Regions from separate parts of the Homo sapiens genome. Here region 2 is linked to region 1. The links come from fine-mapping of genetic effects on plasma protein levels. A gene starts in region 1. The other region holds a variant in brackets. All regions are shown on one strand. Distances are from middle to middle.

The links. PIP is the posterior inclusion probability: the model's chance that the variant is causal. Protein levels are from antibody-based Olink assays in UK Biobank. Linkage for the fine-mapping came from a reference panel and not from the study's own genotypes, which makes the PIPs less certain.
Region 2: its variant is fine-mapped to the plasma level of the LY9 protein (UK Biobank, PIP 0.98). The variant lies in the coding sequence of LY9. If it changes the protein, the assay may bind it differently, which can mimic a change of level.

The regions. Positions count from the first base shown.
Region 1 is chr1:160,793,996-160,799,372 of GRCh38, reverse strand. It overlaps LY9 (lymphocyte antigen 9), which reads right to left and starts at 3,199. Exons shown (of 10, transcript NM_002348.4): 1 at 3,062-3,199. The coding sequence starts at 3,185.
Region 2 is chr1:160,811,217-160,816,593 of GRCh38, reverse strand. LY9 (lymphocyte antigen 9) reads right to left here. Exons shown (of 10, transcript NM_002348.4): 3 at 2,683-2,958; 4 at 1,833-2,174. Among named protein-coding and RNA genes, the nearest start is that of LY9, 18 kb to the right of the region's middle. The variant G/T (reference allele first, on the strand shown) is at 2,827.

The sequences.
Region 1 (5,377 bases):
AAATTGTGAAGAGCCAATGAAGTAAAAAGGAGCATATTTTTAAAAATATGGGTGGGTAGAGGGATGGTTAGATGGGCAGGCGAGTGATAAAGCAAGCAAAGTAAAACGTTTGTGTTAGAATCTAGGTAGTAGGCCTATGAATGTTCAGGGTAAATGCTCCAACTTTTCTGAATGTTTGAGAACTCTCATAGCAGTGTCGGGAACTAAAGGAGCTTCTCCTACCTCTACCTCACCCTTATTGTCCATGGCATCTCAGATTGACTTTGGTTTGGCCAGGTTTGGGGGTGGGAATAGCTGGTGGTACTAATACAGTTCCTGATTTCCTCATCTTAGGCAAGATCATATTCCTGATAAACATTGTTACCAAGGCATCTAGGAAGCTGGTATTTGGCCAAGGCAGTTAATTTTCTTGTAGGGACCCTGTGGGTGTCTTCTGGGTGACCCTAGCTTGGATTCCCAGATTCCAGGGCTTCCGAGGCTCTGGAGAGCACTTTTGAAATTCTAGACCAAAACAGATGGGTTTGGGACCCAGACTCCACCAGGAATTCTGGGTGGGAAAATAAGTAGAAAATGTTAGAGACAAAAAAGGAGCATAAGCATAGCCTGGAGGGGCGGAAGAAAGCTGAAGCAAGCTCTGAAAACCCAGAGGATACAGAATATGCAGACACTGGAAGGAGAGAGGCTGCTTGGTGCAGGTCATGGGGGTTCTCTGCTTAGACCTCCATCAGCCAAGCACTTGCACCTTGTGGAGAGGCAGCTATGGAGCATGCAGGGCTAGGGATCCTGGACATGAGAAGGTTGGGTCAGGTGGATTCTTTAGGCAGATTCAGGCTGAGTTGATGTGAGGTTGGTTTGAGGTTTTCTAAAAGAGAGCTCTTCCCATCTGGAAGAGACTGCTTACGATTGCTATGTGTGCATTAGGTACTTTATGTAAATTATCTCATTTAATTCTCATAACTATACTATAATTAGCCCCTTTTTACAGATGAGGAGCTGAAATTTAGAGAATTTAATCCACTTCCCTGAGATTACAGGGTTGATCAGTCACAGAGTCCAGATCCTATGTCCATGATGCCCCTGGAGTAGGGAGGCCAGGAGTACTGCCCATCTGTATCCTGGAAGCCCAGGAGCTGCTGGGTCTTGACTGGGTGCATATGACTCGTTTTGACTTCAAATTTTCTTACATCAGACAAAAACCATAAACAAAAGCCTCACAGACTCTCAGTGGAGGGGGCAGGATGTGGGCCTCACAGGGCAAATCTTGTTGCAGAAGACAGTGCAATGCAGCTCCCAGTACAATGACAGGTCCCCAGTACCAGTCATTTTATTTTGAATTGCACCGTAGGACAAATAATAAAAGAGCATTCAAAGATTGCAAAACTGAATTTGACTCACCTGTCTCTTAATAGTTTCCAAAGAATGCACGTAACAGTAATTATAATAATAACAATCATAGCTTCTGCCAACTATGTGCCACTATACGTGTGTGTGTGTGTGTGTGTGTGTGTGTATAGATCATCTACAATCTGTAAGAGTGTTGCATGATGCATCCTACTAACTATATTTTACACTTAAGAAATAGAGGCCCTCATCACTAATAAATGATGGAGCAATGATTTAATTTCAGATGTTCCTGATACTAAAGTGAGAGGGGTCTTTTCACTCGACTGCCTTTTAAGTTCCTGAAATGACTCTTTGGAGATACAAAAGCATCATCCTTTCAGACCAAAAGAGTGAGATTTGAGGTCATCCTAATCAGTGGAGCCAGACCAATGGAGATGCCTCTTTGCTCTGAACTGTTTGAAATTCACTGCATTGATCATTTGCGGCTTGGATGACCTTGAATGTAGCTTATTTCAGGTTTGCTCAACACAATCAAGGAACACCCCAAAGGTTGGAGGTAAACATAAACAGCCTTGCTGCTTTCTGTGTGTTTTGATGAGCCAAGATAAAATTGAAAGTGAAAAGAGGTCAGACTGGACCTCAGCTCTGAGGTCTAGGCTCCTCGTTCACCCATATCTGCATCTAGGAGTGTTTCTAAAGCTCCCTTCAGGCACCAACTGCCAACCCCCACTGCTCTCAGATCTCTAGTGCTACCTGCACCATCATCCCTGAAGCCCTGGAGAAAGCGGGAGCACAGAAGGACAGTAGCTGCCACAGTCCCAGGTGGCTGAGATCCTCTCTGGGGTACTGGATTGGCTCTATCTGCTGGACAGTGGGGTTCCGGGCCATGCAGCGGAGAGATGTTTCCCAGGAGTTGGGCCTTGATAGGGAGGAATAAGGTTGAGGAGAAAAGGATATCCAGATAAACGCCACCTTGCCCATGGTCACCTAACCGCGTCCAGGTCCCCAGTGAAACCTCAGTAATAAAGCCAGCATATATGATAACCAAGGCAGGATACATAGAAAGAAGCTCCAGAAGTTCTCTCCATCCCTAGGAAATTGCTAGGTGGCTTCTCATCAGGGGATTTTCCTGGATCCCTCTGTGGGTTTTATCCACACCATACAGGGAACAAACTCATTATATACTTGGCATTTCTTAGGAAAATGTGAGGGCAAGAGAAATGTAGTTTGAGCCCAGAGCTATTTGAGACCGGGGCTAGAATGTTACCCCCTTCATAGTGCACGAATATGCACACATGCAAAGTAATTTCTGGCAAGGAGATGAGTTTCCCGATTTTACCAACAAGAACTGGGCTCACGCCTGTAATCCCAGCACTTCAGGTGGCTGAGCTGGGCAGATCACGAGGTCAAGAGATCGAGACCACCGTGGCCAACATAGTGAAACCCTGCCCCTACTAAAAATACAAAGATTAGCTGGGTGTGTTGGCATGCACCTGTAATCCCAGCTACTCAAGAGGCTGAGGTAGGAGAATCGCTTGAACCCAGGAGGTGGAGGTTGCAGTGAGCCGAGATTGCGCCACTTCACTCCAGCCTGGCAACAGAGTGAGACTCCGTTAAAAAAAACAAAAAACAAAAAAAAGAATCTCCCAGGCAGGGAATGCAACTGGCCTCAGAAGAACCGCAGTAGCAAGAAGTGGTGGCCATAAAGTGGACTTACCCATGAGCAGGAAGAGGAGAGAGGTCTGTAGAACAGAAGAGAATATTTGCAGCTGACTCCTCTGTGGCTTACTGGAGAAAGGCCCAGGAGCCCAGTCATCTGTGTGACTCTTTGGTGCCACCATGATGATCTATTTTCAGAACTGAGACTGAAGGAGGATGCACTTACCACAGCTTCCGCACGTGTCACAGCTTCTGCATGTGTATATGAGTGTGTGTGTGCATGTGTATGTGTATGTGTGTGTGTCTCAGAGGGAGGGTTGTTTATACAAAACACCACAGACTCCTCCCATCTGCGCAGGCAGGTAGAGGTCCCAAGTCTATTCAGGGCCTCATTTGTGACTGATGTGGAGCATCACTTGCTTTGACATCAAGGGACTTGGGTTCTAAATTTGGCTCCTAAAGGTGACTGCTAAAGATCTGTACCTCCTGGCATTCATGCCTCTGTGTAATCACCTCTTCTTTAGTGTGGCCTGGATTTAGTGACTTGCTTCAAGTGAATAGAATGTGGCAGAGATGTGGGATGGGTCACTTCTGAGATTAGGTTACAAAAAAGCTGTGACTTCCATCTTGGGTTAGCATGTGTGTGCATATGCGCTCTCTCTTTCTCTTGCCCTCTCTCCCTCTCTGTCTTTCCCACTATCTCTGTCTCCCTACCTTACACTGAGGGGAGCCAGGTATTGTTTTGTGAGATACTTTAGGGAGAGGGTTCCAAAACAAAGAACAGAGGGAGGCCCCCAGCCAACAATCGGCGAGGAGCTGATTCCTCTGGCCAACTGTCCATGAGGACTGAGGCTAGCCAAGAATCACATGAGTGAGACTGGAAGTGGATCCTCCCCAGGAGGTCCTTGAAATGACTGCAGCCCTGGCTGACACCGTGATGTTAGTTGTGTGAGTACCTTAAGCCAGAGGCACCCAGCTAAGCCATGCCCAGATTCCTTATCAAGAGAAACTGTGAGATAATAAATGTTTGGTTTTTAAATTTTTTTTCAATTTTTTATTTTTCATCAAAAATGCTTATTGTTTTTAGCTGTGAAGTTTGGGGCAATTTGTTACACAGCAACAGATAACTAATACAGTGACCCAATACATTTTCTATTTTGCTCAAGGCAGTTTGTGCTAGCTTTCTGTCACATGCAATGAAGGACTTTTAATATGGACAAAGGCATCAGGGAGACTGCAATGGGGGTGGACATCGTATGTGACAGCGTAGAGGTGACTGAGTTGAAAAGGTAGGCTGGAGAATGGCATGATTCCCTATATCCTGACTTGGGAAACTGTCTTTTTCTCCTCCTTCTTCTTGTCAGTAGCGTAATAGCTGGCCATGCTATGGTTTGTGTTTCGGGCTTCAGGTCATTTGTTTACTTAGGCTGTAACATTAAGGGGACTTGGCAGGAAAACTTGAGGCTGGCAGAATGTGTAGTTTTAGCTAATATTCGATGAAAGCTTACAGAGTGCTAGTCCATCTTCTGACACTTTAACATATTCACTCATTTGATCTTACAATAGTTTTATGAGATATCTTTTATCATCCCCATTCTATAAATGAGAAAACTGAGGTGGAGAGGGGTTAAATAGCTTACTATAAGTTTTATAGTTAGTAAGGACTTGAACCCAGGAAGTCTGGGTTCAAAGGAAGAAGGGAGAGAGAGAGAGAAACCATTAAGATAACAGGCTTATGTCCATGGAAAGCATCTTTAGAGGCTGGTCATGATCTGATGTTGCACAATATTGAAAGTGACAGAATCTCGAAAATCTTTAAATTTTGTGCACTAGGAGCGTGTCTTGTTTCACTCTAGCCTTGGTCCTGTGACTAGAACATGGGCTGTCTAGAGGGGATTGCAGGACATACGGTCAGGAGAGGTTACCAGAGCCCAGATAAAGCATCCTGTTACCAAGCTAAAGGCAACAAGAATCCAGTAGGAGTAGGAAGCTTCCTGGAGCTGCAGAGTGGAGGGAGAATGGGTGGAAGGGATGAGCCTGGGGATGAGAAGACAGGTGCGGAAGCTATTGAAGGAGTCTGGGTACAGAACATGAGAGCAGGAACAGTCTGCATGGGAGGCGAGGGCAAAGGCAGAAGGGAATTCAGAGAGATTGGTAATAATAAAAATCATTACTAACATTTATTGGGTAATTACTATGAGTGAGCCTCTGTGTTTAGAACTTTACATATGTTTTCTCCTTTAATCCTAAGATAGACCCTATTTGGATGATACTCCAATTATCCCCATTTTAGAGATGAGAAAACTGAGATTTAGGAAAGTAACATCACTGAAATGACCTCCTTTGAAGTTGTGACCATAGGAGGACACAGCCT
Region 2 (5,377 bases), 17 kb before region 1:
CTGTGAGGAGAGAGGCAGACTCCATGTGGAATCAGGCCTGCCCCCTGAGCAGTCACCTGTCTTCATTCATTGAAAATATATTCATGAAGCTGAGTGTTGATACTGCCGGCAAAGTGCCTCCAGGAGCCACAGGAATTTTGGAGTATACCTGGCATTTTCCTCACTACTTGTGACATCTCAGACACACCTCTTTGCCTCTTGATGCTCAGGTGAGAAACAAGGGAAATGATGAAAAGTGAAGAAAGAAAGACACAACCTCATTCTATACAGTTAGTTACAGCTGTGAAAGCAAGCAAACCAATCAACACAGATGAGCGCAACACTTCCATGTGCTGTGAAGACCCTTCAAGGCTTGGCTTTGAGGCTGATTTGTTTACTTATATGAGATAAGGGATGCAGAGAGGTGAGCGCTGTACCTGACACAGAGTAAATGTTCAATAAATGTTAGCAACTTTAAAAGAAACAATAAGACTGACTCTATTTGTTTCCTGTTTATTATTTTTACTTAACCTTGTGGGTTCCTTTATATTTGAGGCATTGTGTGCAATAGGCATGGACTTGGCCGACTTGCTTCATATTTTAACAAAACCATGATAGTGACTCTTCACAGATACCTAGACATTGACAAACTCAGGCAGGGGGTATGCTGACCATGTCTGAATGGCACAAGTGAAGGAACAGGTAAACATAAACCATGCAAATTGCCAAGCCAAGCTCCTGTGAGGCCCAGGGCTGAGGAGGTAGAATGCAAATTCTGTTCCTCACCCCCAGGGGAACTGAGTGGCCCACCTTCTTGGAGGCCACAGTGTCTTTGGACACCAAGGGCTTCTCCTCAGTCTTCTCTGATTTCACCCCAGCCAACTTTGGCCTTATTCAAAATGATAATAGTTTATAAAAATGCAGGTTGGGGCCAGGTGCCATGGCTCATGCCTGTAATCCCAGCACTTTGGGAGGCTGAGGCAGCGGATCACCTGAGGTCAGGAGTTTGAGACTTGCCTGGCCAATATGGCAAAACCCTATCTCTACTAAAAGTACAAAAATTAGCTGGTTGTGGTGGCGTGTGCCTGTAGTCCCAGCTACTTGGGAGGCTGAGGCAGAAGAATCCCTTGAACTTGGTAGTCAGAGGTTGCAGTGAGCTGAGATCGTGCCACTGTACTCCAGCCTGGGTGACAGAGCATGACTCCATCTCAAAAATTTAAAAATGCAGGTTGGTGAGTTCCCAGTCCCTTTGTTTTGTTTTGTTTTGTTTTTTTTAGACGGAGTCTTGCTCTTTCTCTCAGGCTGGAGTGAAGTGGCATGATCTCGGCTCACTGAAACCTCCGCCCCTTGGGGTTCGAGCGATTTTCCTGCCTCAGCCTCTAGAGTAGCTTGGATTACAGGCGCCCACCACCGAACCCAGCTAATTTTTGTGTTTTTAGTAGAGACGGGGTTTACCATGTTGGCCAGCCTGGTCTCAAATTCCTGACCTCAGGTGATTCACCTGCCTCAGCCTCCCAAAGTACCGGGATTATAGGTGTGAGCCACCGCACCTGGCCTCCTAGTCCCTTCTGACACTCAGTGCAGAAGGACCGGGGCAAGCACCTAAAGTTGGGTGGTGGAGGCCTAACTGGCAGCCTAGAGCCAGGGGCACTTTGGCGGGTAGACTTGTCCAGCAGCTAGTCATGAGTTTGCCTCCTATGAATCAACTGGTGTGAACTGAACAGCTGTCCTAGTGGTCTGAGGCATTTCAGTATGAGGGAAGACCCTTGGAGAAGCGGAAGGTGGAGAAGGCAGCAGAGGAGAAAGCTTTCAGAGAAGGAATCTGGTGATGGGTGCCCTGCCCAGAGACTCACGGTAGATGAGCAGGGTGACATGTGTCATGCTGGTGACGCTGGAGGCCTCTGAGCACACGTAGGCATGGTAGGGGCCGGCGTCCTCTATCTTCAGCTGGCTGATCTTCAGGGAGCAGTCCTGGCTGGAGACCCACACCCTGTTCTTGTAAGGATCCCTGGATTTAATGAGTGGATCTGCCGTTGCTGCTTCTTCCCTCTCTTTGCTAATGATGGATGTGTTAAACAACCAGACAACCTTCTCTGTGTCCCGGCAGGCTGGGAGTGCAAGTGGCAGGGTGACTGGCTCTCCCAGGACCCCTACCACAGTCTCCCCCGTTGTTCCTCCTCTGGAGGCTCCTGGATCTGGGGTCACAGATGAGACATTGCAGCTTCAGTCACTGTCCCTACTCCCTTGGCCCCCAGGCATCCTAAAGGGGACTGAGGGGACTGAAGTCCCTCCTCCTCTTCCTCTTTCTCCTGGCCTCCTCCTCTGAGGGGCATGCCTGCTACTTCTCCATGACCACCTGTTCCACTGGGCTGTGCCCACTGAATACTTGGACTCTCATGTCCCCTCTCTGCCCTTCTGAGGGTACCCGGAAACACCTCCACCCAAGCAAAGACCAATCTGGACTCCTGTATCCATATTGTCTTCTCCTCCCTTGCTCTAACCTTAGAGTATCACAGTGTTCTGGGCTTTCCCAAGTCCTGCCAGCCTCTGTCATGTCCCTGAGAGTAGAGAATAAGGGGTTTTGGGGCCTGTCCTCTTGCTTCCCCACCCCCTGTGTGTCTGACCAGGATCCTAGGGTTTAGACTCCACAGCTGCTCATATTGTTTCTGGAATTCCCTCAAGGGCCAAGTTGGAGCCAGTTACCTGTACAGAACTGCCCAACATGGACAGGGAGGGAGCTTCTCTGGCTGACGGGGTTCTGGGCTGTGCAGATGTATGGCAGGTCTGGGTCACATGGTGTTCGGGAGACGGTAAGAATGGAGCCTCCATTGGACTCAGAAGCATGGG[G/T]TTCCCTTGGGGTCCAGCTGTACAGAACACTTTTCTCTGCCCCCTTCACGGAGCACATTAGAGTGATGTTACAGGAGAAGTTCTCAGACACCTTCACAGACTTCATGGTGACTTGGGGCTCCTGCAGCTGCTCTGCAGGGACAACAGCATGGGAAGATGCTCAGATCCTTTTGCCAGCAGGAAAGCGCTGAGAGAAGAAGGGAGTGACAATAGGGGAGTTGGGGGCAGCAGAGAGAGGCCAGCGTTACCTGTCGCAGGGACATCTTCTCTGCAGGCTGGGTTGACAGCCTCTCCTCTGTACTCCCATAACATCCGCTACAGGTGTTATCACCATGACTCAGCATGACTAATAGTCTGATTACTTCTCTCTCTCCCCGACCAGTGTAAGAACTCCTTGATGACAGGGCTGATTCCTGTGTCTGAACATCTAACACCCAGCCTGCCTTATGAAAAACACTCATGAATGTTCAATGAATAAATAGGTGAATGGCCCAGCCCCAAACGCTATGGAGTGGGGACCTCTGCTTCTAGAATTTGAGTTGCCCGTGTCTTTGGTCTGAATTTAGGATGCATTGTGCTTCTAGATCTTCTTCCTTGTCTTCTCCTTTCCTTTTGTTCCATCTCCACTGCTCACCATGTATGTGCACATGTGTGAATGTTTCATTAAGTTATATTTCTTTTTTGAGACAGAGTCTCACTCTGTTACCCAGGCTAGAGTGCAGTGGCGTGATCACTGCTCACTGCAACCTCTGCCTCCTGGGTTCAAGCGATTCTCCTGCCTCAGCCTCCTGAGTAGCTGGGATTACAGGCACACAGCACCACACCCGGCTAATTTTTGTATTTTTAGTAGAGATGAAGTTTCACCAGTTGGCCAGGCTGGTCTCGAACTCCTGACCTCAGGTGATCTGTCTGCCTTGGCCTCCCAAAGTGCTGGGATTACAGGCATGAGCCACTGCACCTGGCCCAATATTTCTTCTTTTGAATAGGTAATACATTAAAAAAAATTGAGAAAATACCAAAGCTACATAATGAAAAAAGTAAGCTTTCTAGCCTCCAGCCATTTATTTCATCTCCCCAAGAATTACTATTCCTGGAGGCAATTACTGTTATGGGTTTCTTGTTGATCTTTCCAGAGGTATTCTAGATATAGACAGATATATGCATACTTTACACACTGTTTTGAACCTTAAAAAATTAACAATATATCTTGGAAATTATTGTACGTCATTTGTCAACACATGTGGAGTTGATTCATTCTAATTCTATTAACTGCACAGAATTCCGTTTCCTTAATAGATACAGAATACCCTACAAATCAATGAAAACGGTCAAATTATCTGATAGAAAGATGGTGTTATGAGCTAAACTGTGTCTCTGCAAAGTTTAGATGTTGAAGTCTTAACCTCTAGCACCTCAGAATGTGACCGTATTTGAAGATAGAACTATATTTGGAGATAGAAGTAATTAAGTTAAAATGGGGCCATTAGGGTGGGCCCTAGTCTGATATGAGTGGTATCCTTATAAGAAGATGAGATTAGAGCACAGACAATATAGACAGAGGGACACCCATGTGAAGACATGGAGAGAAAGTGGCCATGTGGGAGCCAAGGAGAGAGGCCGCAGAAGAAACCAAGCCGCTGATACCTTCATTGGCCTCCAGAATTGTGTTCTGGAGAAATGTGGAATACGTTTCTGTTGTTTAAGCTAGTCAGTCTGCAGTATTTTGTTATGGCAGCCCTAGAAAACTAACACAGATTTTGATACCAGAAGTGGGATGAAGCTCTAAAAATCTAAAAATGTGAAGTGGCTTTGGAATGGGCTGATGGGTGGAGATTGGAAGAATTTTGAGGTGTGTGCTAGAAAAATCCTAGATTGTCTTCAAGAGACTCTGGGTAGAAACATGAATGTTAACGAAAATTTGGGTGAGCACTCAGAAAGAAAATAGGAACACTGCAGGGAATGCTGCTATTACCTTAGAGATATACATATGTGATCATGAGCAGAATGTTGGTAAAAATATAAATATTAAATGTGTTGCTGGTGAGGTCTCAGACAGAAATTAGAAATATGTTACTGGAAACTGGAGGAAAGGGCATACTTGTTGTAAAGTGGCAAAGAACTCGGCCACGTTGTATTCTAGTGTTTTGTGGAAAGCAGAATGTTTAAGTGATAAATTTGGGTACTTAGCTGTGGAGATTTCTAATCAAAGAGCTGAAGGCACTGCCTAGTTTCTCCTTGCTACTTATATAAAATGTGAGAAGAGAGAGAGAGGTTAAATAAGGAATTGTCAAGCAAGATGGAGCCAGAACTTAAAGCTTTGAAAAAATGTCACCTATTCATATTGCGAAAAACGAGAAAGTGTGTCTGGAGAGAACACAAAGATTGTGGCTTGGCAATGTTTGCTAAAGAGGTTATGAGATTTGACCACCTCAGCAGAAATGCTGCCAGTCTGGACTGTAAGGGACAGAGACAGGACAAATGAAGGAGTGTGTCAGGCTTCTGGGATTTTATGAAATAAGTCAATACAGCTGTACAGCTGCAAATATGTATT